Linked DNA regions of Homo sapiens. The protein of the gene in region 1 interacts with the protein of each later gene in a pairwise test. Each region holds a gene or a part of one and is shown on either strand. Other genes may lie near its edges.

The links.
Region 2: the proteins of GRB10 (region 1) and MEGF10 interact in a two-hybrid assay, tested with the Homo sapiens proteins (one study listed by BioGRID and IntAct).

Annotation. Positions count from the first base shown.
Region 1 is NC_000007.14:50,606,963-50,622,798, reverse strand, and holds part of GRB10 (growth factor receptor-bound protein 10), read left to right. Parts: intron 1-3,513; coding exon 3,514-3,629; intron 3,630-4,659; coding exon 4,660-4,728; intron 4,729-6,451; coding exon 6,452-6,589; intron 6,590-7,918; coding exon 7,919-8,029; intron 8,030-9,959; coding exon 9,960-10,058; intron 10,059-15,836.
Region 2 is NC_000005.10:127,428,386-127,444,221, forward strand, and holds part of MEGF10 (multiple epidermal growth factor-like domains protein 10 isoform a precursor), read left to right. Parts: intron 1-4,977; coding exon 4,978-5,124; intron 5,125-6,301; coding exon 6,302-6,436; intron 6,437-6,975; coding exon 6,976-7,104; intron 7,105-10,053; coding exon 10,054-10,182; intron 10,183-12,353; coding exon 12,354-12,482; intron 12,483-14,612; coding exon 14,613-14,741; intron 14,742-15,836. UniProt on the Homo sapiens protein: Membrane receptor involved in phagocytosis by macrophages and astrocytes of apoptotic cells. Receptor for C1q, an eat-me signal, that binds phosphatidylserine expressed on the surface of apoptotic cells. Cooperates with ABCA1 within the process of engulfment.

The DNA.
Region 1 (15,836 bases):
AAAAAAAAAAGATAAAAGGAATTTTGAAAAATACAAATTTAAACATACAAAACTAGTATCTTGATGCCCCCTGAACTTGAAAATGGGATTGCAGATAAACCCATCCCTGGGAATGTGGGGGGCACCTGGTGCCTGGGGCTCTTGCACCCAGGCCCCAAGTAACTGTAGACATCAGGCATACTAAGGTCAGATAATCTGGGAGAGAGGCTGGAACTTACACAGAGAACACAGTAAAGAGAAGAGGGTTTCCGCCAGATCTTACAAATTTCAAGGATTTGAGGAATTCCGTTGTCCTGAGAATTAGGTTGAAACAGGAAGAGCAACAAGTCCTTTTCGGGCTGTTTACAGCTTTGTGGTTGTTCCTGGTCAGATGGGAAACACCGTGGCAGTAACTCTGGAGGTCCTGTGGCTGCCACGCTGTTGGATGCTGACAGCTGGACATGCAGAAAGGTGTGGAGGGAGAAACAGCCGGCGCCTGTTGACTCTTGCTGATTAGAGGGGGCCTTTTGCAGGCTGGTTTTATGTCCCTCTCTCCCTTTTGTATGTGAAAAGCAACAAAAGATGTCCTTTCCCCCACTAAAATTTATAAATAGAAGTCCACTTACGGCCTTATCCACACGTCAGGGCTATCTCACTGATTACTCTGTTGACAGTTTCTTAGCCTGGGAAAGCCCTGAGCTTGCTGACAGCTCTTTTCTCTCCCTTGGGTGGGCTGTGCTGAGGAATGATGGGCAGGGAGTGGCCCAAGGGCTGCAGCTCGATGTGAGGCCGAGACAGTGGGGTGCACAGCTTCCGTGCACCGGCTCTGCCATGGCCCCTCCACTGCCAACTGGCAGCACAGGTTTCTGCCGAGGAGTCACACTTTAGCTGCAAGGGTTAAGGCAAGGAAGTAAGATTCTCTTTTTTGAGTTGTCTTGATATTTAAATATTTTTTCTTGAGGAGTAGAGTAATGCCAGCATTAGTTTCAGAAATTTGAAAAATACAAATGTACTTCAAGGAATTTTTGCCCTTTCCATTTCTTGAAATTATTTTTGGAATATTATCTTGAAAAGTAGTGTTCCCATTTAACTTAGGCCATTGTAATCATATGCAGTTTATAGATAGTGATGTGATTGTTTATAATCATGCAAGGTCATTTGAAAATACATATCTTTAAATCATGGAGAAAATTAAAACTGGAGGGAAGATCTTTGAACAGATGTGCAGTCGATGGCCAACTGGAACACTGGTGCCTGGAGCATTTGTGCCAGGGGCACTCAGCTGCATCCGGAGGCTGCACAGCTCTGGATCTCTGAGAAAGGGGTCACCTGCCACGTTGTGTTCACTGACCTGCTGTGAGTGACGAAAAGGGAGTTGATGTTTTGTTTGTCTTGGGACCCACCTCTGGGGATGGTAGGCGCCCTCTGGAGTCACCAGCCTCAGAAAAGCACACTTCTGTCAGGATACACAGTCAGTTTCACAGCCCACCGGTTATCCCGAGTTCCTGGGCCCCCCTTTGCCAGGGCACCAAGCCCTCACCTGTCCACCTGGATCTGACCACCAGGGACACGTCCCCCTGTGTGTTTACACTGCCATGTGCAACTTTCCCATGATCTTTCCAGGGGAGGCGCAGGGAGACAGGAAAGTATTGTCCACAAGGATGGGCGCCTGCGTGGGTTTGGCCACCCCCTTTGGGGCTGGTGGCTGCCCCAGGCATCCTCTTTGGCTCTCCTCAGGGTTCTTTGGAGACAAAATGCCCTTCGCTTTGGAAACAGACATATCCTCCTCATTTAGGTAGCTATCACCTCCCATTTTTATTTCTCCTTATTTTGCCTGATAAAAATTTTTAGTTCTGTAAATCAACCATCAACAGGTTATTAGATTGTTGGTTTTGGTTTTGGGTTTTTGTTTTTGTTTTTTCCTGTAACTACAGAAAGACATTTTTCTCTGAATAAACATTTCAACAGAAGTCATTGATTTGTTTTCCTTCTGGAAAATCCATTTTCAATGAATGAACCTCTTTTTGGAAAGCAAACGTAACAGTTTTTGTTGCATGTTCTTGGTTTCTCTCTTTTTCTATCATGGGGAGACATGAGGGCCACGTATTGGTTCACATGTTGCTAGCAGCATTCCCTCCCAGACAGGGACAAATGGGAACTGCTCCACACTTGGTGGTGGTGCCAAGTCTGAGCTTTCTGGCAGCCACGGGGAGAAAATTCCTTTCCTTCACAAACTCTGGCTTTAAATGTGTTTTTACCAAGGAATCCTTTCCTTGTAATGTCAAAACCGGGGCCGAGCACGAATCAGCTCCAGAATTTGCTTCTGCATGCCGGTCGGGGCTCATCTGAGATGAGTGCCCATGGCGACAGTTGTTCGTTGTAGACGGAAAGTCTTTTCTGCATTCTGAGATCACTTTGACTCAGAAATGCTTTTGCCTTTAACTTCATTCCTTCCTTCCAAGATGAAACTTTCCTCAAGATTCCAGTCTGGCTGCAGGAGAGGAGGGTAGGGTCTTAGGATAACAGAACTACCCTGGTGTCAATTCCATAGCATGTTAATCTGTACCATTTTGGCATCACTTCACACTTTGACCCTGCTGTACATTTGTTCATCTTGTTTATTCCATGATTTAATAAGGTTAGTTTCCCATGGCCACCATCCTCCCATGACAGTTTCTGAGGAGGTGCCTGGGAAGGGACGTAACTGCCATGAAAGGGAGCAGTGCGGCCTCTCTGGGCACACGCTGTTCTAGAGTATGCTGAGTTCTTCCCGCTCCACTTGGAACCACTGTGTTCACACAGTGAGGGAAGCGACTTTTCCCTTTCTGGGGGACAGTGCTGCTATGTAAGATGCTGTGAAGGAGGCGTGTGCGTACGTGCATGTGTGTGTGTGTACGTGTCCACAGCGGGTGCTGGAGGATGGAGTGTGTTTTCTTCCCTGCCTTCACGTGTAATTCGGTTGACAAGAACTATTCCATGATGTGCGTGCGGGCTTCAGTGTGAAAGATGAGTATGTACGTACAGTCTTGCTGTGCATCACGGCCTCTCCCACAGTACACAGCACCATCTTTTCTGGCAACCAAGTTTGATGTCATCAAAAAGCTTCTATCTCCTTCCATCTCTGCACCTTCTTGGTCATCCCCCTCCTCCACCTCTTTCAAGTTCTTTCTCCTTTGTCTTTGAATATTGTCTCACTTGTTATAGTCTTTACAAGAGTTGAAATTTCTCAATTTAAGGGCAAAATCATTTGCTAAGAGTCTTACGGGCTCATTCCTTAACATCTGGTTGATGCCAAATTCAAAAAGTATATAAAAATAAGTATTGACCTGAATTCTTCATGCTGTATATCTTAAGACCTCTTATGCATTTGGTAATGCATTAAAGAGAGATTTAAATTTAGTTTCCTTCCTGACCTCATCTTTATTCATAATGTTTAAAGAAGAATAGAAAGTTGAACAAATCTTCCATTTGGTTGTAAAGCTACCATGAATTTCCCACCTGTTGCGTCTCACACGTGATGCTTTGCCCCTGCAGAGAGGTGCTTGGAAGACCATGAGCTGGTGGTCCAGGTGGAGAGTACCATGGCCAGTGAGAGTAAATTTCTATTCAGGAAGAATTACGCAAAATACGAGTTCTTTAAAAATCCCATGGTGAGTCTTACCTCTTCAGGTTTGGGGTTTGGGACTCTTGAAATCTTGAAGTTTATACTTGGGTTTCATAGTATCAGATTAGAAAGTGACTGAGAGGCATGGTGTAGCATATGGGTTTGAGAATCAGAGTTGTAGTTTAATGAAGCAGTCCTTGCTTGAAACCCAGTCTCATGCTTCACTAAATGTGCGTGGGACTGGCTGAAGGTAGAGGTCTCCTTCTTCACATAGACACAGTGTAAAGGGGGTTAGTCTCTAAGACAGGAGCTGGGAGAGGCTGGGTGTTTTCTGTTATTTTGAAAGTTCTCAGTTGAACTGATCAAACACTTAGCAGAAGAAAAACTCATTATTCTCTGCAAATAGCAAATATATTTTGTGATCATACGTGGAAGAATGACTAGAGAAATCAGTGCGATTGGTTGGTGTCTTGAGCTGGTCACCTTGATCTCTCTTTTCTTTCTTTGGGAGAGGCACTTGTCCTGTGAGAGGCCAGGATAGGGAGGGCACCTCCTAGCTCCTGGGGCACTCGCTGTCATCCTGAGTCATGGGTCAGAGCTGCATCAACTGGGGAGAAGACCCAGGGCCATTTCTGACTCTGATAATGTAGCTGCTTTTTTATTCCAAAGTAAGAAATTTGAAGACTGTTTTTGGGGAATGCAGCAGAACAGGCTTTTCTCGTGACTGGGCTTACCTTTTAGTTTCAGGAATTCTTTATCTCACGCTGTGCACTTGTGCCACTGGGCTGGGACGCTGGCATCGCTCTTTGCCATGGAGCATGCTGTGAGACATGAATCCCTTAGTAAACATAGTTGGTATTCCACACTAGTACCCAGCATTTCAGGAAACAAAATACAACCTTTTGAAGGAGGTGTTTCTTCTGTGTGATAGGAGAATAAAAAGGACCGCCATTTTAAATACAGGTGTATGTAATTATACTGGTAGGAATAGTTTTAAAATTGACATATCTATATGACATACCTTCCCTCACTTTGAAGCTAACCTTTTACGTATTTGTTTTTTCCCATTTTCTTAGAATTTCTTCCCAGAACAGATGGTTACTTGGTGCCAGCAGTCAAATGGCAGTCAAACCCAGCTTTTGCAGGTACTGGGCCACAATAGATCTCTGCTGAAATAGACTTTCTGAATAGAAATCCTCTTGGAACTGAATGGCAGCATTGTAAAAAACCTAAAGAGATCGCATCTTTCACCATTTATAACCTTGGCTCTTAAGCCGGAGGGGTGGTTGGGGGGAGGGTTTAGAGTAACCAGAAATTAAAAGTTTCCTTGGAAAATCTGTGTGTAGCTGGGTTCCTTCTAAGCCAAACAGGCACTTACACGATGCCCTTGCTCTGACTTAGAAGAGTCCAGTGATGCCACTGCTGAGTGTGGGCCAGGGGGTGCATGGAGAAACCCCAGTCTCAGGGCTCCCTCCCCAGCTCCTTTCTGAGCAGGGGTCCCAGGTCAGGCCACCGCCTAGCTGCTTGGAAATCTCTGCAGAAGCACAGAGTCTATAGTAAAAGATGATCGGGTTACCACAACAGACTTTTAAAAGTAACTTGCCATATATTACAAATAAAGAAACCTGCTTTAATTGTCCTGATTCATAAAGTCTGTTCTAAGAAAACCTGGTCTCTCCCCACCTCCTCTTCCAGTGGAGGGAGCCACCAGGGCCTCTGTGCCCAGCTCTCACACACACTCCTCCGGGGAAGCTGGGAGTGGGGAATGGGAATGTTACAGCTACACCCTAAAAATGTGCCTGTGTACATGTTAAAAGTGAGAGAATAAACCATTTCCTAAGGCCACCAACAAGATCCAGGTGACATTACATGTAAGAGAAACTACTAAAATGTAGTTCCTACAGAATTCTCCTCATAAGCCCTTTTTCTACGTTGTTATCACCAAATTTGTTTCAGCATCTAAAAGATAAGAGTTTCAGAGCTCTGTTCTGGTGGTGTCTTCAGAAGCCCTTCTGACCATAGCATGTGTCTGTTCTGGCGAGAGGTGTCAGCACTAAGTTACCACCTATACACAGTGAACAGTGAAATAGCAGATTCTGTTTTAATTGCCTTGACTTTGAGAGGATCCATGCGCTTTGTGAAGATGTGCAGTGATCTCTTGAGACTCAAGAAGGACTGACCCAGGTGCACCAGGGCTCTGTCCGACGTGCCTTTCCCACCTGGGGGAAAAGAGCTTTGTCCCCTCCCAGTCTAGTAGCAGGACCTGCCAGCATCACCTCCCCAACTTCGCTCCATGACCTGGCCCTTGGCCTGTCTTCCCTTTGATGAAAAGCGTAGTTTCTTGTTTTGTTTTGTTTTGATAAAGCCTTTATTCTTAAGGCTGCCTGTGGGAAGAGTTAGCTGGAACAGGGGGACATCACCAGGATGTCCTGCACCTGGGTGCATCACTTGCGGACACATGACACCTTTTATGTGACCCTTGACTGGAGGGGTGCCTGGGTAAAAGTGGCCACTACATACTCACTGTCAGTCTCCAGAGTCCCAATCACTTGGTCATGGCACTTGCTCTTGCCCTCAGTCTGATATCAGACTGGATCCTTCAGTGCACTATCTTATAGGGAAATTCATGACTCGTGTTATCACCAGTGTTGGAAAGGTCCATTTGCTTGCATATGTTTAAATACGAATTATGTTCTATGCAACACGAATTGAGATGGGATTTTAAGACTTTGGAAAGGAGAACACTCTCATTTTGATCCAAAAAGGAGTCTTTTAATAATTCAGAAAATGTCAGCTATGCTGATAACATGTCTGCTTTAATTATTTTAGATTAGCATTATGTGATTTTAAAAATTTGTTCTTCAACAGAATTTTCTGAACTCCAGTAGTTGTCCTGAAATTCAAGGGTTTTTGCATGTGAAAGAGCTGGGAAAGAAATCATGGAAAAAGCTGTATGTGTGTTTGCGGAGATCTGGCCTTTATTGCTCCACCAAGGGAACTTCAAAGGTGAGCTTTAAAAGCTACCACCACCAGCCCTAATTCTGCCACAGTCACTCCCCCCAGGTCCTCAGAGTGAACCTGGGCTTCATTTTTAAATGCACCTTAGACTCCTCCAAGCTCAGGACAACTTCTTAATAAGCTAATTGTGCAGCAGCTGAACTTGGAGTCACAGGTTTCCTGGTCTCGCTCAGAAACTAGGTAATAAATAATACAGGCCTAAGAACCCCACCTGCCTAGCCCCACCCCCACTGCGGGTTGGGAGCAGACACCCCTGGCTGCCCCATCACTTCAGAGACTGGCCTAGTTCTCATAAGTTGGGATTTAAGCTAGCTGTAAAGATGTTTGATAGACTATTGCCACCCTAATGCCAGTGTAACTTTATGTATCATAGATATTTCATGAAATAAACTGCAGGCTTGCATGTATCCCCAGTGAGAAGAAGGTGGGAGATGGAAAACAGCTGCAGGCCCTCAAAAGAGAGCTTAGGCCGGAGGCTCCTTTGCTCCCATGTACACTCTTGTCTGCTCTCTTCTTGTGCTGTCCACATATACCCTGTGGCAGGAGCCTTGTCCACCCAATACCTGGCTGAGCACTTACCATCTGAGGGCTGTGGTCTCTTTTGCTCTGGCCAGCAGAGGTGAAAGGGAGCTGGCGGGACCCCAGCACAGGTGTTGAGCATCTGGGAACCGGCTCTGGGAAGGTGTTGGGGCCGGCTCTGGGAAGTCAGCAGCTGCCGACACCTGGGCCAGAGAGAAGGGGCGTCTGCAGAGAGGGGCTTTGAACTGACACAGGGCATGGTAGCTTCCTGACCTCCCAGCTCTGCTGTGTGGCCCGCTCACTGTCCTCGTGTGTGCTGAAGTTGGGAGGGTATTTCGTAGAGCAGGAAACAGAGCTGGGCTGGAGAGTTGAGGAGGAGAAGGGTGGGACAAGCAAGCTACCAGTGGGAAAACCCAAAGTACGGTTGGACTCTGGACTCACAACAAACCAAAGGCAGACAGGCCCTGTGCTCTTAACTCTGACCTTTGGGTTATAGATTTTCTCCTGCTTTTTATCTTGAATATCCGGTCATGGGGCTTTGATTTGCCAGAAGTATCAAATACGTTCCAACAGCCTTGTGTGTCTGAGAACTGGGGAAGTGGGTGTTTTGGGTGAGACTGGGTGAATTTGGTTTTAGTTTAGCACTTATTACACCTCGCGTAATAATCATATGTAATATGTATAGTGTCATCGGGGAAAGTGCTTGTAAGTGTGCAGAGACTGCCCTCTGTCTACCAGAGGTGAACACATTTGCTCTTTGCTGTGCTTGAGACTTTAACCTGGCCAGTGTTGTCACAGGAACCCAGACACCTGCAGCTGCTGGCCGACCTGGAGGACAGCAACATCTTCTCCCTGATCGCTGGCAGGAAGCAGTACAACGCCCCTACAGACCACGGGCTCTGCATAAAGGTACCCACGAGCTGTCCACAGACGGCGCGCATGCTCAGCAGCCCACAGGAGACTGACTTCTTCTCTTGCCCAGCACTTGATTGTTGCTTCTATTGTCTTCAACAGAAACATAGTTTCACACTGGATTTATCCATTCCTGTAAAAACATTTATTGTACACTTGCTGCTATCAGTCCTTGAGTAGCTCAGAAGCTCAAGGACAAGCAGACAGGGATGGATAATGTGGCTAGTGGGCTCAGTGTTTTAGGGAGGGTGGCTTTTGGCATCAAAGGGTGGGCTGTGGCTGTAGCCCAGTACTAGTAGCTGGAAGGGGAGGTGGGGCAAGGGAGGGGACCCCCAGCCTGTCACCTGGGTTGCCTGCATGGTACTGAGTGAGCTGATGGCTTCTGTGTGGGCCTCTGGCTGTGGGGATGGTCAGACAGGAATAGACACAATGCTGCCCACCCTCTGCATGCATGTGTGTGCTGGCATGCACACACACGTGTGCACACACATCTACATGCACATACCCACACGTGCATACATACATGTATAGACATACACCTTTGTGCATACACACAGGTATAGACATACACCTTTGTGCATACACATACATTATACACACATGTACATAGACACACATACACATGTGCACACACCTATAGGCAGAGCCCACTCCTTTTCCCCTGATGAGGTTGTGGTGGTATTAATAATCATAATGGTAGATGATATTTACTGAATGCTTACTGTGCATGATATGTTCCACTGACAGTTTTACATCCATTATCTTAATCTTCACAGCCCCTTGTGGGATAGGAAGTTGGCCACATTGCCCACATCCAGTAGCCAGTGAATAGTTGTGCTTGGAGTTTGCCCTGTAGGCTGACTTATGAGCCATAGCCCAAGCCACATCCCGAGAACACACAATACGGGGAGCCCCTCCTTAGGGGAAAATTTCTTTCCAAAATATCACCTCATACCTTGCTCAGGGAATACTCTTTCGGTTATAAGTAATAGGCGTCTAATTCACACCAGCTAGAGGCCCAAGGCAGCCTCAGGCGGGGCTGGAGGTATGAGCAGCAGCTGGCACTCTCCCTTCCCACCAGCCCACACCAGCCATGCTTGCCTGTCTCTGCAAACGCAGTCTCTGCTTCTCTCATAGCACCAGCCGAGCGCAGGGTAGTCACACCTGTCCCTCAACCCCTCCAGATTCTTGGGAGGGAGAGCTGGGGTGTGTCCAGCATTGTTTCTTGAGTCTGAGGTCGGGGGTTCTTCTGGAGATGCAGGTCAGTTTATGCCTGCAACAATTCTCCTCCCTCACCAAAGGGCCCTGCCTCTGGAGGGGCACCTGTCTTCTCCCCATGGTGCCTACTTCCCCTTCTGTCTCATTCTCCAGAGCCAACATCAGTCTCCCTCTCTGGACCTTCTACTTGGGGTCTGATCTTGGGGCTGCTCAGACATCAGAATCCCTGAGCTCCTCAGGGGTTGCCCCTCTTGGCTAAGCCCTGCAGCAGCCCCTCCTCTCAGTGGCCTGGGGGCAACTTTAAGATCTCTCCTCCTGTAAGTCAGAAGGCAGGTTCTCCTCCCATAGAATCCAGTCCGTCGACAGAGTTAGATGCCTCTTCCTCTTTGTCCTATTGTGCTTACCACATTACGTTGTCCTGTGCTAGTTTGTTTTTCTGTCTCCTCTGAAGTTCCCAAAGGATGGCTTATTATTCAGCTAAGTGGTACACAACCTGGGGCCAGTCCATGGTAGGCACTTAATAAAGTCTTGTCAGGAAGGTGGATGAATGAACGCTTAACACACAGGTGTGTGTGTATCTGCTGTGCTCCTTGCTAGGGGGATCTCCAGCTGGTTGTCTCTGGTTTGTGTCAGATGCAGCCCTGCCTTGACAGAAGCTGTTTCTGACTCCCTGTGTAACACTAACAGGACTTTCTTTTACCTCCTGTAGCCAAACAAAGTCAGGAATGAAACTAAAGAGCTGAGGTTGCTCTGTGCAGAGGACGAGCAAACCAGGACGTGCTGGATGACAGCGTTCAGACTCCTCAAGGTATGTGACATCTTGCGGTTTGTGTTGAGTGCACATCTCTTCGTGGAAAATTGGCCTCTGGACTTGATGTCTATTCTGGCAGGAAAATGCTCGTAACTTTTCCGCTGTTCTGTCACAATATTTTATTTATCAAATGTAGTTAAGCATCTTTCTAAACAAGATCTCAGGAGCTTTTAACAGAGGGCCTAATATTAAACAGGGTAGAGCTAGGTTTTCCGGACTCAGTACTACTGACATTTTGGGTAGAATAATTCTTTGTCGGGGGTCTGGGGGACATCCAAGCATTGCAGGCCACTTAGATGTGTGGCATACCTGGTCTCTGCCTGCTAGATGCCAGTCGCACGCCCGGCCAGTTGAGACAACCAAAAATGTCTCTAAATGTTGCCAAATGTGCCCTGAAGCCAGAGGATGGGGAATTGCCCCTGGTTGAGACCACTAGATTAGAAGAATAGGATTCGAAAAATCAGGACCAGGGAGAAAGGAAATAGTACATGAGGTGTTAATTATTTTCACGACTGAACCAACTCTCAGGTTCCCAAAAAGCCAGGGCCATGAAGTAAACATGATGAATTATACAGTTGACTGAAGCTCCTCAGCAGAGACAGTACCTCCTGACTGTAAGTTCTAAAGGAAATTTATCACGTGGTACTGCATATAGAGTAATGCCCTTGACAGCAATTTCATGCCAGTTGCCAGAGTGATTTCATAGGGCTGTTTACTGTAGTCACTTTGGATTTCCCACAGTGTTTCTGTGCACATATACCATATCCCACATGTCTGGAATTAAGTCTACAGAGTCCTTGTGAGTTGTAAGTTAGCTGGCCCAGGTGAGCTTGGCTAAAGTCCAGGGGTCTCCATAGGAGATGTTCGTTTAGTCAACTGGAGCCAATGGATACAATGGTCTAGGGATTTCTTTACAAAAACTCCCAGCCTTCGTTGAACTGTAGTGGCCTTTGAGCTGGTCCAGAGACTCAAGGTGAAGTCAATTAAGGAGATGGAGGAACTGAAGGAAGCATAGCTCAAAACTTTCCTGGAGGTGCTGCAGATCCAATTCTGAATGTAGTCCTGTTGTCCCATCCACTTGGCAGGTAGCATTTTGCACCCAGTAATCCACAGATTCCAGAGACATTAAGGATACATCCTAGTGCCATTTTTATAGGATGCTGGGGCCCAAACCAAAAGTTCCACAGATTGGCTTCCTGTATCTCTCTCCCAGAACCTTATTTTATGTTTTCACTGATTAAAAAAAGAATTATGGAAATCAAAACTTTACAAATTCATAATGGAAGAGGAAATGTCCATGTTAATACATCATAGATCATAGACCACTCCTGTGTAAGCCGGTTTTCAGTGTAAGGGTCATCAGTGGGAACTGGTCACATAGGTGACATCCATTGAGGGCAGTATTCTGCATGGACCTCCAGAAAGAATGAGATTGCTCTTTGTGTCCTGTTGCGGAAAAATTACTAACAATTAAAAAGCAAAGTACAGAACAGTATATAGAGAGAAGGCTACATTTGTGTGAAGGGAACAGGAAAAATTGGAATATTTGTATTTGATGGTATGCTCATGAACATTGTGTGAGCTGCAGGAGAGAAGAAAGAGGTTGCTTAGTAGGGAGAGGAGATGGGAGAGGCAGCTGTGCAGATAGGGGCAGCGGCCAGGGGTGATCTTTTGAAGCTGTCTGTATATGGTTGAAATTTTAATCTGCAAATGAATCATCTGTTTTGGAAAAGGCAAAAAAAAAAGGAAATGAAAAAGGAAAGTGGTAGTATACTCCAAGAAGCTATGAATTCTATTACTTTGGGTAATATATAATAAATCCAAGTATCAGGTTCTTAACCACTGTTTCTTGGGTGTCTCTCCTTTGTTGCGCTAACATAACGAGCCACAGGAAAGGATGTGGGCAGAGTGACTAATGCAAAACGAACTGACTTTATTGTTGTCAGTGTTAACAATGATGTGTTACATAATATTAAGATTTTTTTGAGCATTTGCTATGGGCCAGGCATTCTTTATCACTTTACTGTTTGTGACAGCTCAGTGACATGCATATTATCATCCTCATTTTGTGGATGACAAAACTGAGGCCCAAGCTGTAGCTGCCACGATGTGGCAGAGCAGGGTCAGAGCCCTGACATTCTGGCCCCAGAACCCCTTTCCTCACTACCATGCTTTGCTGCCCTCCCTAGAGCCACCTGGAAGCTGCCGTGAGTTCTGAATGCATTCCTCTTGTCCCAGCCACTTTGCAGGGAAGCACTTTGCATCCAGTGATACACGGATTCTAGAGTCATTAAGGATACGTCTTAGGTACTATTCTTATAGGAGGCTGGGGAGCCAGACCTGACAGGAAGGTGGCAGTGATGGCCTCGGGGCCGGTCTCAAGTGGAGTGCAAGTGATGTGTTTCTGCCCCAAATAGCCATAGGATTGTAATGCAATCGAAACGCCATTTGAGTGTTGTCGGCACTGATTCATTGCCCACTATACAGAAATGATAACCGGGATAGAGTTAGGGACAGTGGGGAGGTAACTCTTTATGACTCCAGGGTCTCCATGTTGACATTCATTCTAAAACAAGGCATCCCGTGTGTGTGCTCTGCCTTCCTCCAGAGGAGGACACAGGACACCGGATCCCCTTTTAGAGGATAAGAGGGTCTGAGGGCTGAAGTTGACAGGGCCCTTTTACCATCTACTACAAACAGCATCTTCATATCAACCATGGAAAGGCAGAGCTGGGTTGTTATTTTGAATTAACCTAGGACCTTCTTACATCTTTACCTACACAGATACACTTTCTTGAAAAAAATGAATAAATCTTATAACTTGGGTCTACATAGGAGAAAGCTGGCATGGCTTTACTTAGCTTTTCAGAAAGATGCTCTTAGTAGCGCCAGCAGATAATCTTTTGTCTCATTTCTTCCTGTTACATTGTTTGTTAGGTAATTTCTTGGAAGCTGTAGGAGCTGTGTGAATAGTATTAAAACTTTGCAACAATTATTTATTGCCATCTTTCCTCCTCCCTCTGTCTTCTAGAAGTCTCTTAATCTACTGTAGAAACTCATCCCCAAGAGGGAGGTCTTGCCTCATCCACACAAGAGTCCCTAGTACTGATTGCTTTGGTTTTACATGACCTGACATTGAAAAGGCAATGAACGCAGCATTAAACCTTTGCAACAATTATTTATTACCATTTAATCTTTTCTGTCTACACACACCCATATATGTAAATATATACATGCAAACATGTGAATAAAATAAAATGTGTATGTTATTAGGTACCCAAAATTGAGAATATTTGTATCTTCCTGGTATGTCAATTCTAAGACATTATAAAATATGCTTTATTAGCAATGCTCCTTGCCCCAGAGTCTAATCTGGCACATATTAATTTATTTAATGATTTTTACCTCAGCTTTGCTTCATTACACAGTTTTTCTTGGACCATCTTTTTTCTACTTTTCTGGGTCCTTATGTTTAAGGAATATCTCTTATAATCACAATGTAACTATTTTACTTTGATAATCTTTATCTTTTAACCAAAATATTTACTGTGATTTAATTGTATTATTTAGTGTGATAATCATATTTGTATTTGAACCTGCCATTTGCAGTTTTTTCCAGGTTGTCCCACCTCTCTTGTATTCCTTTTCTCTTAATTTTTTAGATTTATTAAGTATATTTATGTTTTTCCCTCTGTTAACCCAATACGTACATGTACATTTACTATTTTCTCCTGGTTACCCTAGATATCACATCTTTTTTTTTTTTTTTTTTTGAGTCAGGGTCTCACCCTGCCTCCCAGGCTGGAGTACGGTGGCATGAGCTCATCTCACTGTAGCCTCAACCTCCCGGGCTCAAACCATCTTCCCACCTCAGCCTCCTGAGTAGCTGGGACTACAGGCATGCACTTCCATGCCCAGCTAATTTTTGTATTTTTTATAGAGACAGGGTTTTGCCATGTTGCCTAGGCTGGTCACAAACTCCTGGACTCAAGCAATCTGCCTGCCTTGGCCTCCCAAAGTACTGGGATTACAGGCGTGAACCACCGCGCCCGGCCTAACATGCCCCTTGAACTTATTAAAATCTTTTATAATGTAGTACATTTACTGACTGCTTTCAGGCAGGCATGAGGACCTTTCACTCCATTTGCTCCATTGTCCCTTTTGAAGGATTCTTGTCATATATATAAAACCTCTTAAGACATAATGTTATTGTTTTATATACTCTTTAATCACCTACATCTTTGCACTTTAATATTTCCTAAATTTGCATTCTTCTCTCTGGGACTAGAAGACCTCAGCTTAGCGGTTCTTTTCATGTGGGCCTGAGAAATTTTCTCACTTTTTGTTTCACTTTCATTCTTGAAGGAACGTTTCACTGGTTATAGGATGCAAGGTTAGCGGTTATTCTCTTCTGCATCTTCCCACTGCATTGTCTTCTGAATCTTATAATTTATGTAAAAACATTAGTTGTCTGTCTTCCCATTGCTTCTGTGAAAATAATGCACGTTTTCCTCTGGTTGTTTTTGACATTTTCTTTGTGTCTGTTTCTCAGCAATTTTTCCATGATATATGCTCGGAGCGGGCTTACTTATCCTACACCCTGAATCTGTAGCTTGACGTCTTTTTGTCAACTTTGGAAAGTTTTTGGCATTATCTCATCAAATATTTCCCCTGACCTGTTCTTGCTCTTCTCTTGCTGGAGTGCAGTCGTTCCTGTATTAGACCTTTGCATCATGTTCTAGGTATTTTTATCTTAGAAATGAGTATGTGCCATGAGACCTAGAGCCAGAACTGAGCTTAGATCCCATGAAAGAAGAGCTGTCCCACTTGATGACTTCACTTCCTGTTTCTGACTCTTTCTTCTTCTCCACATGGTTGGAATGTGTGATTTGGGTGTGTAGGTTGGGATGCTGGATGTGTATGAGACTTTGCAGGGCCCTGAGTCCTCATTGCCAGGATCAGAAAGTGCAGACTACTGAGCCAGTTAGGTGGCAAGCCTCAGCTAGGGAGGGCACTGGGTCTGGAACAGGTCGTGTACGTTCAAAGTCGTGACTGCGGGCAGCTTGCCTCATTCCTCTGTGCTTCAGTTCTGTGCTCTGTAACATGGGGATAATTATAGTGTACAGCTCATAAAATGGAGAGGATTAAATGAAATAACATAAAGCACTTAGACACATAGTGTCTTAGACATATTGAGCCCATAGTGGCACTCAATAAGATTACTTGCTCTTGATGTTATTATGTTTGTCACTGTCCCGCTTATTCCAAAACCAGTCAGCTCTTCCCTCCTGAGGGGCCACAGTAGCAGCAGCACTGAGGCATGCACCATATTGAATGTGAAGTTGAATGATTTGAACTGTGCAGGTCCACTTAGAGATTTTTTTATATATATTAATCTATTATATAAAGTTAAAATTTATCAAAACTGAATGCATGCAAACACAGACTGTATATGGCACCATTTGTAGTCAAGAGATGTAAACAAACAAAGATGCGGATTACCTCAGAACTGCATAAAATTAACTATAGTCCCTGCTGTATTACTCTCATAATTTTGTAGCCACCTCCTGTTGCTAGTACAGTGAACTCAGATGTTGGACATATCCATTTAGAAACCCACCTTGTGTTGCTAATTATCTCCCCATGAGCAGGTCCTCTCTCCAATAAATTGCATGTTGTAGTAAAAAAATGGGCTCATGTTTCTGGAGTATTTTTCGTTGTGTGTAGTGCAATACAGGAACTTTAAAGAACACCATGGGACCCATGTGAAATGCC
Region 2 (15,836 bases), on another chromosome or scaffold:
CTCCCATCCTGCAGAAGCTCACATTGCATCAGGACAGTCGCTCTATCAGCAGAGATGGATATACCAGTGAATAACTTCTCTATACTACACCACACTATGCTGTACTACACTACACTACGCTACACTACACTACACTACACTATGCCACTGCTTTGTTGGTCAAAGGATTAGAAAAGCAGAAAAAGTGTTGTGACTAAATACTATAGTTCCTCCATCTTATAATTACCAAGCCCAATTATTATTAACAAATATCTCTCTTTGCTCTAATATATGTTTAATAGCTTGTTGCCCAGGAACTAGACATAGAATCAAAATAATTTCCTTCATTCACTAACGCTCCAAATATTGGAATACTGGCATAAGGAATATAAGCAATTAAGTAAGACAAGGATTTGGGGTTATATCTATGAGAGGGGAAAGAATGACACCCCAGATGATTTATTTACTGCATTCATGCAATCACAAATGCCCAGTGAATGCTGATTTCACATTGAGGCCGCTGGCATAATGCATCAGGCATTAATTGCACGAACATTTCTTTAGAGCTGCTTAGCTGAAGTTTATCACGATCATTCAGCCATTGCCTAGCAACTTGTGGAGGCTATCAAAGAGCTCTTTGTTCTCAGTCGTGGCAAAAACAGTCCCTTACAGATCTCCTTATCAGCATTAGAACATTTATCAGAAAAGAAATGCTCCCATTGAACCAGAGATGGCTGCAGATTTAAACCTACCCCCTTCCCACGTTGCCCCTTCTTCCCAATATTTTAGAAGTTATTTCCTGAACTATTAAAGTTTCTATCTGTTTTTTGCTAAAACTTCTGAAGGAATTTCCTTAAGATGTCATATAATTCCTTTATGGCCTAATAATCTGGGCTTACATGTAAAAACACAGACCTGAGCCCCTAAATGTGTATCTGCTCAAGAATAAGCAAGGCAGACATCTCCACCTCCTTAGCAGGGAAGGGTCACCATTTTTGATATACAACCTATAAATATGTTGGGCTTCCTGGTTTGAGTGAAGACTTATTCAGGAAAGCAAAGAATGCTGTGGTTGCTCCATCCCATTGGAAAGTGGTCCTGAATATCATACAGGAAATAGGAATTATGTGTATCGATTCATTCAACAAATAAATTTATTTAACACCTCCCATGTGCTAGGTGCTATGGTGAGCAAAAACAGGCATTGTCTCTCCCTCAGGGAGCTGCCAGAATTAATTACCTTTGGTGGAGAATTGGAGGGGAGTCTTCATCTGCATTTTCTTCTATATCTCTCCAGAATTCCTCTTCCCCGCATCTCTGCTGACATTGACTTAGTTTCATGCCTTGTCACTTTGATCATTTTTTTTATTTGGGGAACCCCAAATGGGGGTTCTGCAGGTAAAAGAGCACCTGACAGGTTTTCTTTCTTCCCAGGCTCAACATCTTCTGGCCATCTTCTGCCCTCCTATAAAGCACAAATTTAGTTGTGCCCCTTCCTTCTTAAAATTGTTCATTTGGTCCCTGTTAACACCAGGGGGAGGTTCACACTCTATAGCATGGCGCTCTTGGCTCAACTCAACTTGGCCACTGCTTGGCTGCCCAGATGTCTCACCTGCTCTCCCCAGCCCCTGAGTTTTAGCTGTACCCAACACTTGCAATTCCCAAAGGACAGACACTTCTTTGGGCCTCTGAGCCTTGCCACCACTGTTCCCTTAGCCTGCAGTCCTCTTCCCCCTTCACAAGCTACCTCCCTTCCTGATCATGATCCCCAGGCAGAGCAGGGTGTGCCTGTTCTGTGGTCATTATCACCCTGGGGTTACATTTTTAAGAAAACTTCTCACAGCAAACCAGTAGCTGGCCAGATCCCTTGAATGTTTGCTGAGTTGGGTTTCCTTTTCTGCCTTTGACAAACAAAGAAACAAAAAGATGTTTTGTAGGACCCTAGCAAAGCTGGCAAAAAATAAGAGGAGATAAATATAAATAATACACATGTACCCACACAGAGCCAGAAATAATGGTTAAAGCAAAACTTACAACTCTTCATCCTGGAGAATATTTCATTGCAGGGTTATCCTTACATGGAAGTCACATCAGCAGTCATATACCTGGTGCGACTTAGAGAAACACTTACCCAACACTCTCTTAGTGATACTTACTGCCTGAAATTCCACAATTAGATATTTATTTCTTAGGCTCTTAGAATGCATGCTCTCTTAGAATATCAATATTCTCCAGAGAAGGTACTACTCAGCAATAATAAATGTATCTTGTCCTTTTCTGACTGTAAGATGAAGGGAAAAATAACTAGGAGGGCACAGAGGGCCAGAAGGGGAGAAGCAGCAATAGGAGAAGAGGGTACAGCAAGAGGAGGAAAGACAACTCCACACCTTTCCCTGGAATTGCCCCCTAACTGAGACATACTTGATATTTATCTTCACATAGATTAGGCATTAGTATCTGCAAAATGCTGACTCATTTTTTACTGATGACAGAGTAAATAAAAGGGCTTGAATTTTTAAGAGGGTGTTGGTAATAGAATTTTTATAATTTATATTCAAAGGAAACATTTCTTTGCAATTCTAAACTAAAAGTTATTTTCAAGTAAGCTTGGGTCTGTTGAAAGATGCTTATATGATTGGACACAGAAGGTTTGATCAATGATCTATAGAATTTGCTATGATTCTCTGGAAATGAAATGATGGGTAAACCATATGAAACAAGCTTATCTCTGCAGTGGATCTTCTTGCTATAGGGTGGGCCTTGTTACTTATACAAACATTACCAGGATATAGTTGATTATGACTGATGGCTAGGCTAATCAGCTGAACAAACCTCTTAAGGGAAGAAGAATAAGTTATGAAAGAGAGGATCTCTTTATTCAGATTTGCCTATCTGGCCTGTAGTCATTTTTCTTACCATGCTCTGATTGAGAATAGGCTAAGCTATACATAAATCATGATAACCTATGATATAAAAAAGCAGCAAATACTTTTGACCTAAAGTGTACTCCATTCCATCTTAACTGAATTTATTAAGTGCAATTTGAAGTAGTGATTTGGCAAGTAGTTGATAAACTAAGTCATCATAAATGGCTAAATCTTACCTGTCCCCCAAGTCCCCACCCTAACAAAAAAGCATAAAAAATCGGGACTGCTTTTTCAGGATGATGATCAGTCAGATTAACAGGATAATTACTCAGTTTCCACTTCTTCAAAATCTTCGTTGGGATTTGTCTTGATGGCATCAGACCAAAATGCCCTGGGTTGATTGTCTAAGTCTCTGTGATAAGCAGGTGTCCCCATCTTAGCTGTTGTTAAGCAGGAGTCTTGGCTCACGGTCAGAGTCTAGGACCTGAATTTGAACTGAGAGCGAAGTGTTTAGCAGGTTACCCTTGTTGGTACTTTCTTTAAATTCTCAAAACAAAGTTTAGGTTTGCAGCCTCATTTTGAAGTGGTTTACTGCTTAATATGTTTGATGCTTCTGCCCAGTATAGGTGTGGATATAAATTCCAGGTAAGATTCTGTGGCTGATGTATCACATCTGGTGAGGGTAGAGTTTGCAATTTCATCTCAGATTTTCAAAAGAGATTTGAAAAAAAAATAATATATTTATGATTGCAAGAAAAAAATCAACATAGTAGGCCCAGATTTCATACTTTATTCTATGGGAAACATTTAAACCCCAATTGGTTTATGAACAGACCTGGTCTCCTTTCTTCAGCCCATGGTCCGAATGAAATAAAAGTCTATTGTTGGGTCAAGCTAGACACAATGAGGTCTGCATGCTTTCTTGCCTATTTAATGGCCTTTACCACGTGGGAGACTTTCAGAAGGAAAAAAACAGGAACAGTAAAAAGTGGATCTTCTTGCTATTCCAGTGTTCACCGGAAATGGTGTACCAATTAACAACATTCACATTATAGTTTGGGACTGCTTCCATGTTAAGGTTCAGACTGTGGTGACTTTTTGCCTGATTACTTTAGAAGCCAAAACTGTAACACAAGACATGACCGTCTCAGCATCGTGGTACTGGGTGGTTGTTAGTATTCTGGAATCCTGGAGGGTCTGCGTGCTTGCTCTTAATGTGTTTTCATTTGGTCTGAGGCCAGCAACTGCCAGTTCACTACTAATTATAACTTATTGCCTTTCAATGTGAAGAACATTTCTTTGAGTTGTGAGGAATTCTGGCAAGAAAGAGGCCCCTGTTGTATTTCCAATACGAATGTACAGAAGAGACTTTTATTTATCTCAAATAAAACCTGGTTTTAGTTTTATTTTTGCAAACTTAGCTTTCCTTTCTGTTTCCTTTTGTCATTTTTTTTAATTCTAAAGTTTCTCAGTATTTAAAATTAGAGTTAAACAACTGCATACAGTTTCATAATAATCGATAGCATAGACAACAGCTACAAATAATGTCAGTTGTGATATTCTGCCAATATCTCTCCAATGTCAGGTAAGATTTTTAAGGAGGAATTTGGTGGCACGTGTCAGTGCATCTTTCTGTTCTGCACAATGCACCATCAAGTTATTTTAAGATTATGTTTATTTGTTTCATCCAGGGGAGGGTTTTCTTTATGTAAAACATTTTATGGAACTGTTCATTGCCTTATCCTTTTACACTTTATTTCTCTGTGAAAACAAAGAATGGGAGGAGGAGGAGGAAGTCACCAAGGGCTAAAAGATATCGTATTGTTGATAAATTTTACTTGCAATAGACAGAGCCCTTGGGCTTCCACTTTATTGCCTCCTCCTGAAGAAGAAAAATCAATATAACAAAAGTTTGTTATTCGTTCTTCATGACTCCATAGAAAATCGGTCTGGGTATTATTTTAATGTTATGATACTGTGTATTGATGTTTATAAGATGGTAACTCTCCATTCATTGCTGCTGGTGATCCTCAGGTTTAACACTGTGAGCTTAGTCCTCATCTATGAATTAGCATCTGCGGAAACTCCGCACTGCCTCTCACTCAGCCTTGCCCCATGTGCATTATTTCAGGTGTCCACTGTGACAGCGTGTGTGCTGAGGGACGCTGGGGCCCCAACTGCTCCCTGCCCTGCTACTGTAAAAATGGGGCTTCATGCTCCCCTGATGATGGCATCTGCGAGTGTGCACCAGGCTTCCGAGGCACCACTTGTCAGAGGAGTAAGTGTCTCATTAGGCAGTAATTTCCACCTTCCCTTCCCTGGGCACCATGTATCGAATAATGATCTCTGTCCCACCTCTCAGTTTATAGTGATGTCCTGTTGCAGTTGAAGGCAAAAGAGAGTGTAATGGTTCACTTGTCCTTTGCAGAACTGTGTTCCCTAAGAGCTTCATTCTTTCCAGCCTTCAGAACTAACCTAACAGATGGGGATTTAACCATTTCTTCTCAATAATTACTTCATTGCCTCATTGGCACAACCATCAGGATATATTTCTTCACCCTTCCTGAAAGCTTTGGAATGGTGTTCTAGAAATTCACTGACCTGTAAATATGTTATTCAGCAGTTTGGCATTGGCCTTACCTCAATTACCAGACGTCAACATCAGCCAAACCTTGAGGCAAATCATTCATCCTGCTAGTAGTCTTAAAATCAGTGCTATGGGGAAAATGGAATTGCAAAGTTGAAAAAGGAGACTGTTGACATTGGTCCTTAAGACTTCTGAGTTAGAAGATTAAGTAATCTTTTAGTAAATGCAATCAAAAAAGAATATGTAACTAATTATAAGTTATACTATTCTAATTTTTTAAATTGCCTTTCCCCCCATAAGAATTCTATGCAGTTATCATATATTTAAATCTGAATAGTATCTTGGCAAGAACTTAAGTATATAGCATTTTGGTTAATCACTTTTCGATTACAGTCATTAACCTGGACCATTTTGAGGAGGAAAAATCTTCAAATTTTGACTGTTGATCGATTTTTATTGCCAGAAACGACTCTTAAAGAATAAAGAATCAACAAATGGTTTGAGAGTACTTATTTGAGACTTATTAGTATTTCAATTTTTTTATCTCTTTATTTATTCAATGAAAATTCCTGGAGCCCTGCTTTATGCCAAGACTTGAGCTAACTGGGGCCTTAAATGGGAAAATAAAGAAGACTAAGACATTTGCTTGCTCTCAAGAAACTCAGAGTTTAGTGGCTTCTTTTCCTCATTAAAGGGTTCCTTTGTTCCTTTGTTGTTCTTGTTTTCTACTTGGAAAATTCTCCGTATCTTTTTTACTTTTTTTTAAGGTTTTGCTTTTTAACCTCTAAAACTTTAACTAGATCCCGATCTGGAATGCGAGACAAACGCATCTCAGAAGGATAACTGCTGATTTCCCTTCTGTTTTCAGTCTGCTCCCCTGGTTTTTATGGGCATCGCTGCAGCCAGACATGCCCACAGTGCGTTCACAGCAGCGGGCCCTGCCACCACATCACCGGCCTGTGTGACTGCTTGCCTGGCTTCACAGGCGCCCTCTGCAATGAAGGTAAGGCACGAAGCATCCCGGACAGCTGGGTGGTGATGAGCACGCCCCGGAGAGTCTGTCCTCAGGCCTCCCCTTGGCCTTCCTGAAGGCCATGTTTTCAGCTGTCTGCTGGGAATGTCTTCTGCTGTGCTGTGTCTGCAGCTTCTCAGATAGGACTTTGAGCTTTGGAAAAGCTGGCTTGCCACTCCAGCAAAACCTTTTTATTTCCTGAGATGTGCTACTCTTCAGTTTTAGCTGGACATGTCCTCCCATAAAAAATCAATATGCGGAAGAATTTTAGACTCCCAGAGCAAGAAGTCGTGAAGTCATATTTCTAGAAGTGCAATGATGTCCCCTGGTTTGTGATGCCTTAATGCAAATCTTTGGCTTCATGGATTTGTAAAAATGAGCCCATTCAAGATGAAGGATGCTGTTGAGCAGAGATAGCTACCAATGAGCAGCTGGGCCTGTGACCTTTAAAGTTATTTCCTGTGCTAAGATTCTAGGGTTCTGCGAGAGGGGTTTTGATTGTGAGTTACTGACCTATAGCTTATTCACAGTGTGTCCCAGTGGCAGATTTGGGAAAAACTGTGCAGGAATTTGTACCTGCACCAACAACGGAACCTGTAACCCCATTGACAGATCTTGTCAGTGTTACCCCGGTTGGATTGGCAGTGACTGCTCTCAACGTAAGTCTTGTTTGAGAACAATTAATAAACTGTTCTTATTTGTTTGTTTTCAGATTCTTTAGGATTGAAGTATGAGTGTTTTTATATAATCAAGAAAGAATATATGACTAATTAAAAGACACATTCTACTTTAAATTCTTTTTTTAAAATTCTTTTTTTTTTTCCCATTACGACCTCTATGCAATGGTCCTATGTTTAAATCCAAATAATGTCTTGGAAAGAACCTAAATATGTAACATTTTCCTTATCCCCTTTTCAGTGATTCATCGTCCATTGAAATAAAGCAAAAACAGCTGTATTGAGAAATCTATCTCTTCATTTTGTGTTTATCTGGAGAGTTAATTACAGAGAAAGAAAAAATGGAATTAAATGATGTGAGCCTTAGAAACCTATTGGGAACCTGAGCGAACTGCCCACCTAATATGCTTAGCTTCACCTTGGCATCACCCAAGTGCCTTCCACACCACTGGATTTCAGACAGGAATTGTGTGACCCTATAAGGGACTATATAGATGACTCTTAGAGCACCCATGTCATGAAAAAAATGACATCGACTATAAGTCATTCATGAATGTTTTGAAAGGGTCAGTGCAATGTCTAAAAGTATTCAACTTTTGACCAAAAAATAGCATATGTATGGAGTAATCTGGTTTCATTCATTTTAAATTTTATGAAACACTCTCAGTTTATATTGAATTCCCCCATCATGCACATAAGAGAAATCAAAGAATGACTGTGTGCAGTCATTTTACATGGTGCTTTATTGATAATTTAATTCAAACTTCACAGTTACAAGCAACCTGCAAATACTAATTGATGAGCAATATATTTTTTGCTGGAAGATTTTTTTCTGAATGTTAATTTTTTCCATAAGTAGTCCAGGCTGTACCCCATTTTTTAGGAATAAGGGAAGAGAGCTAATAAATCTCAGAAGTGTAGCTCTTTGGTGAAAGAAGTGTTATGCGATATGATTTCACTCCATTCTGGGGGCATCACTTCAGAAGAAATCAGTCTGTTTAAATCTACATGTGTTGCAAGGGCTCTGACTGATGGTTGGGCGTATGGGTTTGGGAAGAGTAAAAGGTCCAATATCATTGTCACAAAATGATTGATTTATATTGCTCCTTTAAAAAGTAGTCTTTATTTTGGAAATTTGTCCCTTCCTCATTTGGAGGAGGAATGTGCTGAAAGGAATAAAAATAGAAACACAACTATGAATGGAGACTATAGTGTTGCCTGTCCCAATAATCACTCCACAGGAAGCTGACTTATTTGGCAAAAGCCTTTGCTTCTCCTGGGGATCATTGATTTCATTGATTCCCTTATGGACTCTGTGGAACCATCTTCATATTTCTTCTTAGCTGATTGTGAGCCTGTCTAAAGAGAGCAAAGTCCTTCACAGTGAAAACACAGACTTTGAAAACTTAAAGGGGTACATTTAAAGGGGCAGGTGTCCTTGGGAAAATGATTTTTTAAAGCACTATCTCTACGTTTACCTTTTGGGAATATAAAGTTGAGTGATGCTTATTCCCATTCTCTGATCATAACAAATATAGGGAGAAAAACCTAATGGCAGTGGGTTACCTCAGAAAAATATATTGTGAACATAAATGGGTTTACAGAAGCTGGTTAAATATCATCTAAGGAATAGGTTGTTTTAGGTAAAGAGTGCTTCACTGAGCATCAAATGGGCTAGACGCTTCAACAGTTTTCACTGAGTCTCACTGTGGCTTTGGGAAAGCTGTATTTGTCTAACAAATAACAAATATTATTATTAATCTATGTGACCTTGTACGAGTCACTATTAACCTTTTGTGTGCTCAGTTTCTTCATCTGTAAAATTAAGGTGTTGTATTTAGAAAATTTGTTCCAATGCTCACTCGAGACCTCAAGTGTCAGCTAGTATTTTCCCCTTGCTCTTGGACATGGTGCACACAATTATGGAAGAATTTTTTTCATTTAAAAAGTTACTTCATATGTATTATTGATTGTCTTTATAGGTCCACATTCCCTATGGGGTAGCCGTATAGAAATTACAGGTGGTCCTCCTTTTATGCAATTATGTTCCTAAAGTATTAATATGAATAAAAAGTATTTTTTGTCAATGAAATTATTTTACCCCCTGATCTTATGCTATTATTTCACAGATACTTTATCTGACTTTCTGATGTCTCTTCAATCGGCAGTGACCCCTAATGATTTAATTGTATTATTTTCTGGATCTTCCAGTTAAGAGTTTTTACAAGGAAACCAATTTTTACATACCGCTGGGAACCTCAATATTTAAAAGGAGCCTGAAGTGGCAACTCTAGAGTAGACTGAAGGGTACAGGATTTAGAAATTGTGAACATGAGCTACATGGCCTTGGGTCCTTTAACCTCTCTTGAGTCAAGTCATTTTCCACACCTTATCTCTGCTCAAATGTCCTCTCCTCACAGAGGCCTTCCTCAGAGGAGTAGCTCCCAAAATTATTGTCTTCCTTATCCTCCTTATGTTTTTTCATAATACCTACCACCATTGATTTTTCATTTTGTTGGTTGGTTGGTTGGTTTGCCTGCCTCCCCTACCAAAATAGAAGCTTCCAGAGGATGGTTTGGACTTTGTCTTATACTCTGCTATCTCCCTTGGGCCTGGAACAGTGTTGGGTACATAATAGGTGTTGAATATGTGTTTGTTTAATAACTGAATCTGTAAACTTGAGGTGATTTTTGCCCCAGCCACCTCACTCTGCAGTTGTAAATGAATACATATGTCAATAATGACAGTCGTTGTTGAAGTTGCCATGGCCATCTGGGATTTAGTGCAGAATTCAGAGCAGTGTGCTTTCTTAGTCCTGATGTACACTGCTAACCTCTCACATGCAGGGAGATGTGTAGAGGTGGATGGAATTCTCCCTACTTAGTATTGGCCTCAGAACTCTGATGGACTTCTCCATACCTGTAATTTCAGCATGTCCACCTGCCCACTGGGGCCCAAACTGCATCCACACGTGCAACTGCCATAATGGAGCTTTCTGCAGCGCCTACGATGGGGAATGTAAATGCACTCCTGGCTGGACAGGGCTCTACTGCACTCAGAGTAAGTGACAAGCCTTCTGAGGCTCACCAAGGGGAGCCTTGTCCAAGGAGGAAACAGCCTTACCCTCCGCATGCGTGACTGGAGCTCAACAAAGGTCCCTGAGGTTGGAGTACTTCCCTCTCCTAATGACCTGTAGACATATAAATTTCTCTAAGTGATTAAGAGCTACTTCATTCCAAGTATTCTGTCTCTAGGTTCTATCTCCACTGAGGTAGAGCAATGCTGTGTGATGGTATGCAGTTTATTTCTCTTCTCTCCTTTAACCAAATCATATTTATATGGATCAAATTCTCAATCCTTTAACAGCACAAAAGTTAGGATAAGTATAGAGATTAGAAAGGTAGAGAAGACAACAAGCCTCACTGCCTGATTTAATGTGCGCTCTTGGAAAAGGTGGAGTTCCGTGTTTTTCGAATGGTAGCAAGCTTCAGAATCACCTGGAGGACACAACAAACACAGAAGCTAGTTCCATCCCCAGAAAGCCGGAAGCAGCGAGTCTGGGCTGGCACCTGAGAATTGCCATTTTTATCAACTGGTAGTAATGCCAGGCTGGGACCATGCTTTGAGAGCCACTGCCCTAGTTCTTTTCCCCATTTTGTAATTCATAGCATCCTAACCATTTTTTCTTCCATTAGGCTTTTAGCATGATAGGATATAGTGTGCAAAGTACTTACTCCAAAGCTGAGCATCATTGGGGAAGGAAGATCATTCTCTGACCTCTTACCTTCGGTTGAATAAAGGAGACAAGAAAGGAAGGCATGTGTTATGGTTAAGTACTAATAATAGCGTATATTTTAAAATAATAGCAAGAAGCTGAGGAGGACAGATGGGTCTGAAATTGAGCAATTCTTATTTAATACTAATTAGAGTACATAATTAAAGAATAGGCTGAAAAAGTCTTAGAAACTTTCTAGAAGATAATGTAGACCTTGAACCAAGAGTTGAAAAGGATAATTGGCAAGGAAGGTAGCTGGCCCAAGCATATTCTTCAGAGTTCGTATATCTATAAATATTGTTTAACTTCTTAGAGAAAGGTACTTGTAAGATATTATTTATAATTCTAAAATTAGAACGTGCTTCAAAGAGAGAACCCTTTTTCAAGTGCAAGTAACATGATATAGTGGGAACAACATGGGGTCCAGAGCCAGACCTCCCTGTGTTTGAATCATGGCCCTGCCGTCCTGCCAGTTGCCAGCTGTGTGACTTAGGGTACTTGGGGCTTAGTTCCTGTCTACAAGACGGGAATATCCATCCCTGCATTTCTGGCCTGCTGTAAAGATTAAACAAGAGAACGCATGAAAAGAATCTGGCACAGAGTAGGTGCTAAATAAATGCATGACAGCAGGGAGTCATCGGTGCATACTGGCATCTGGGCACTGCCTCTGCTTCTTGAAAGTTCCATAAGAAAATGAGAAAATGAAAAGCATATGTAATATTTGGAAACAATCATTGAATCAGCCTGCATTGAATCTTTCATCACGCCAGAGATCCCCAAGACACTCTTGCAGGGCAGCTGCCAGCCCATGTAAGCCAACAGAATTTGTGGGTGTCTTTAGCTCAAGAGACTCGCCGGTCTAAGCATTGAAAATCATGCAGCAGTGTGAAGGGTTATTGCTTTTTACAAAGCACCTGTGAAGTACAATTGTTTTTTAAGGTAAGCATTCTAGTACACCTCTTCAGGGAAGTTGATATTATCTAAGATAATAACAGATACAGTGGACAAGGCTAGTAGCAACAATAGAGATGTTCTGTACTACAAGTAAAAGCATACAGGTAATTTTAATATAAAGTACCCGTCTCAGTCCATTGGAATTTGAGTCCAGGATTCTAGTAGAAATGTGAAAGAATGAAAGGAAATGTCCTATTCTTCCAGGATTGAAGGGATATTTTGTTAGAAGGCACTAGTCTTGCCTCCAGGGGTACCAGTGATGGTTACACTGACAGGAATGGAACTCTTCTGCCTCCTGCTTATGAATTACAACCTCCTTGCAAGAGCCCTGTCTTGGGACTTCAAAGAAGCTCTTGTGGCAAGCTCAGATATGTACTATTCACTGTATTCTCTGATGGCTCAGTGTCATTCAAGTTTAAACACAAATATGTTGGAGGCACGAGCCTCCAAGTGTTTCTCTTCAGCAGCCTCTTGACTCCTACTGTCCTCCCTCCTCCCACAGGATGTCCTCTAGGGTTTTATGGAAAAGATTGTGCACTGATATGCCAATGTCAAAACGGAGCTGACTGCGACCACATTTCTGGGCAGTGTACTTGCCGCACTGGATTCATGGGACGGCACTGTGAGCAGAGTAAGTATGAGAGTGTGGCATCACTGGGTGGTATTTTTTTCCTCTAGAATCACATTTCCTAGATGCCAGGAAATATTAAGGCAGAATTCACCACTCCGAGGTTGTTTGAGCTGATGGCTGGTTACTTCTCAGCATGACTGACTTCCCCTCCCAGAGGTCAGGCCTCCCTGGGATCATCGCTGGTTACTCACTGCTCTGGGCGGAGGAGGTGTGACTACAAGAATGAAGACAGAATTCAAGTTTTCCATTCTGTTCTTTTGGGCTCTCCCTTCCTCTCCTTCTTATTTTTGGAATGTGGCTGCTCAGAGCCTTAAAAGATCCAGTCGAGCTTTCTTCATGGCAGAGGCAGAACCCGGGTCTCACATTGGAGGACAGTACATTCGGTGGGGAGGAGGGCTGGTGGCCCAGGGCCAATCCCTGTTGCTGGTGAGGGAACACATCCATGCAAACATTGCCACCCTTTCAACAACCTTCTCTAGATCGTACTTTTATACTGCTTCCATTAACAACTTCTCATCTTAGTCTTAACAACCTTCCAGACAACATACTGCCTTAAAATTTTGTTTAAGTCCCACTGGGGGAGAATATGCCGTTGGAATTACTCATCCTTATTTTTTTATTTCCACCCCACTAGCTATGCATCCCCTCACAGAGTTATAAAAACATTAGTCTTAATAAAATTGAATATTGCAAATTAGTTTATTATTCCTTTCCTCTATGACTTTCTTTCAGTATTCACGATAAATAAATAAGGGCTTAGGGCTGTATCAGACCCACTTTCTTATGATAAAACCTTTTGGGCGGGAAAAGGTGAAGAACAATTCCTGTTCACCAGAGGTTGTACTCTTGGGAAGGATCTGCCAAGATTATGGCCATAGGAGTGGTGTGGCCTGGAAAGATTGATCAGGATAGCAGGACTCTGACAATAAAGCACCCCTCCCCACCCCACTCCACTGGCACCTCACAGAGCCACTCTGAACCTGGTTGCCTCAATTTTATGTGCTAAACCCTAGGGTATTTTTGCATATCCTCTTTCTAGCAAATATAACAAAAGTGACGTCCAGGAATCAGCTCACAACAGAGACAGCCCAATTTTAGTTTTGCATCACTGTTTCATTGAGTCATGAAAACAGATCCTGACTGAGTGACACAGTTGCATACATAACTCTATTGTGCATATAAATATTGTGTGTTTGTGTATAAATGTCTAAATATGCATGGAAACCAGAATAGGCTCAAAATTTTACTTGAATGCCAGATGACTGGTTAAGGTCTTATTAAATAAGAAAACCTCTTAAGTGCTTCCATGATTACTCTCAACAGCAAATTAAAGTGTCCCTATTTTTGGAGACTTCTCCCAATGCTTATTTGTAAACAGAAACCCTGTGTTTGACAGAGAGTTCTAATAATAATAGCACATTGCCCCCTGCTGCTCACTTTATGAAAAATATCAATATTTTGTCACGAAGATTTTTAGATTTAACATGCTTACACTATCCTTTGAAATTCATGCCTAACTCTTATTAAGACCGCATAGTAAGAATCCTATTACTTTCGTCTTCAAGACTTCAACAAAATCCAGAGTTTGAATCACTCCATAGCAAATGAAGTTCTTACCTAGAAAATCAGCAAAACTTGTTGTTTGCATCTTCCCCTATTCCTGGCTAATTCAATTGAGAATGTGCGTTTATGAAGATCCCTGAGCCTACAGTAAAATATATATGTTCTCAAGAAAGCATCTTTAGTGCTCTTCAGTCTAGGCCCCTTCCAGCCTACAGTTTTGCCTGGTGGACTTGTATCAAATTGCCCTTAGTGATTATCTTCATCTGTTCCATGGGAATTCCACAGACTCTCCATATACACATCATAGAGGTAAGTATGTAGCAGCTGAAAGTGTCAGGAGCTCTAATGTTGAGCAGCCCTGTCTCTAGCCCTGTGCAGTCTGGACTGTGAGTGCCACCATGATTCCAGGAATGCTGTCCAGTTCTGGGACACTCTTGGGGGTACAAGTCAGCCTCAATAGGAATCCCCTGAAAGGACTCAGCTCTAGATGTGCAGGGCTTGCAGTCAGAGACAGCCTTGCTCCAAATTCCCAAGGTTGGAAAGCTACATTTGACTTTCCTTCTCTAGAGTGCCCTTCAGGAACATATGGCTATGGCTGTCGCCAGATATGTGATTGTCTGAACAACTCCACCTGCGACCACATCACTGGGACCTGTTACTGCAGCCCCGGATGGAAGGGAGCGAGATGTGATCAAGGTAAATATACTAGCTAATGTTTGTAGCACTGCAGTATTGTGTGAACACCATGTACCAGGCAATGTGAAGTATTTTCACTTATGTTATCCAGCAGAATCTTCACCACAACTCTAAATGGCATAATTGGTTACTTATTTAATTGCCAGATGAATGCCTTATTGTTGCTGTCCTGCAGATAAAGAAACAAAAGCTTAGAGAGGCTGAGTAATTTTCCCAAAGTCACATAGCTAATACTAGAATATGTCACAGCTTTTGTGCCAGATTTTTGTTATTCCAAAACTCATGAACTTTCTACTGGGTCTATGATTTTTTTTCAGCTTTATTGAGGTGTAATTGATACACAAAAAACACACCTATTTAATGTGTACAATTTAATAAAATCTCGACTATCTATATACCTATGAAACCATCACCATAATAAATGAAATATCCATCACCATGTGTTTCCTCATGCCCCTCCCTACTTCTACCACCCCTTAAGCCCCAGGTAATCACTCATCTCTTTTCTGTCAGTATAGATTAGTTTTCATTTTCTAGAATTTTATATAAATGAAATCATACTGTACTCTTTTGGGTCTGGCTTTGTTTACTCAGCATAATTATTTTGAAATGGAACCATGTTGTAGCACATATCAACAATTCAGTTCTTTTCATTGCTGAATACTATTCCATTGTATGGATATACTATAATTTGTTTACCTGTTCATGTGCTGATGGACAGGTGGATTGTTTCCAGTTTGGGGCTATTACAGATAAAGCTGCTATGAACAAGAGTGAATCCAGTTTTTGCATGGACATGTGCTTTCATTTCTCTTGGGTAAATACCTAGGAGTAGAATAATTGGGGTATATAGTAGACATATGTTTAACTTTTTGTAAAACTTGTGCCCCTGGTTTTCAATTGGGGTGTATGTCATAACGACCTGGGAATAGTTGTCAGGTACATGGTCCTATTTGGGAAATTCCGATTCCAGGGTTGGGGACTTTGAGAAAGTGCTTCTGATGGTTCTGAAGCATGCCCTCCAGAGAGCCACAGCTCTTACTGCATGTGGTACTCCCTGGTAGGCAATAAGCAGTTGGGCTATAAAAGGCTTTA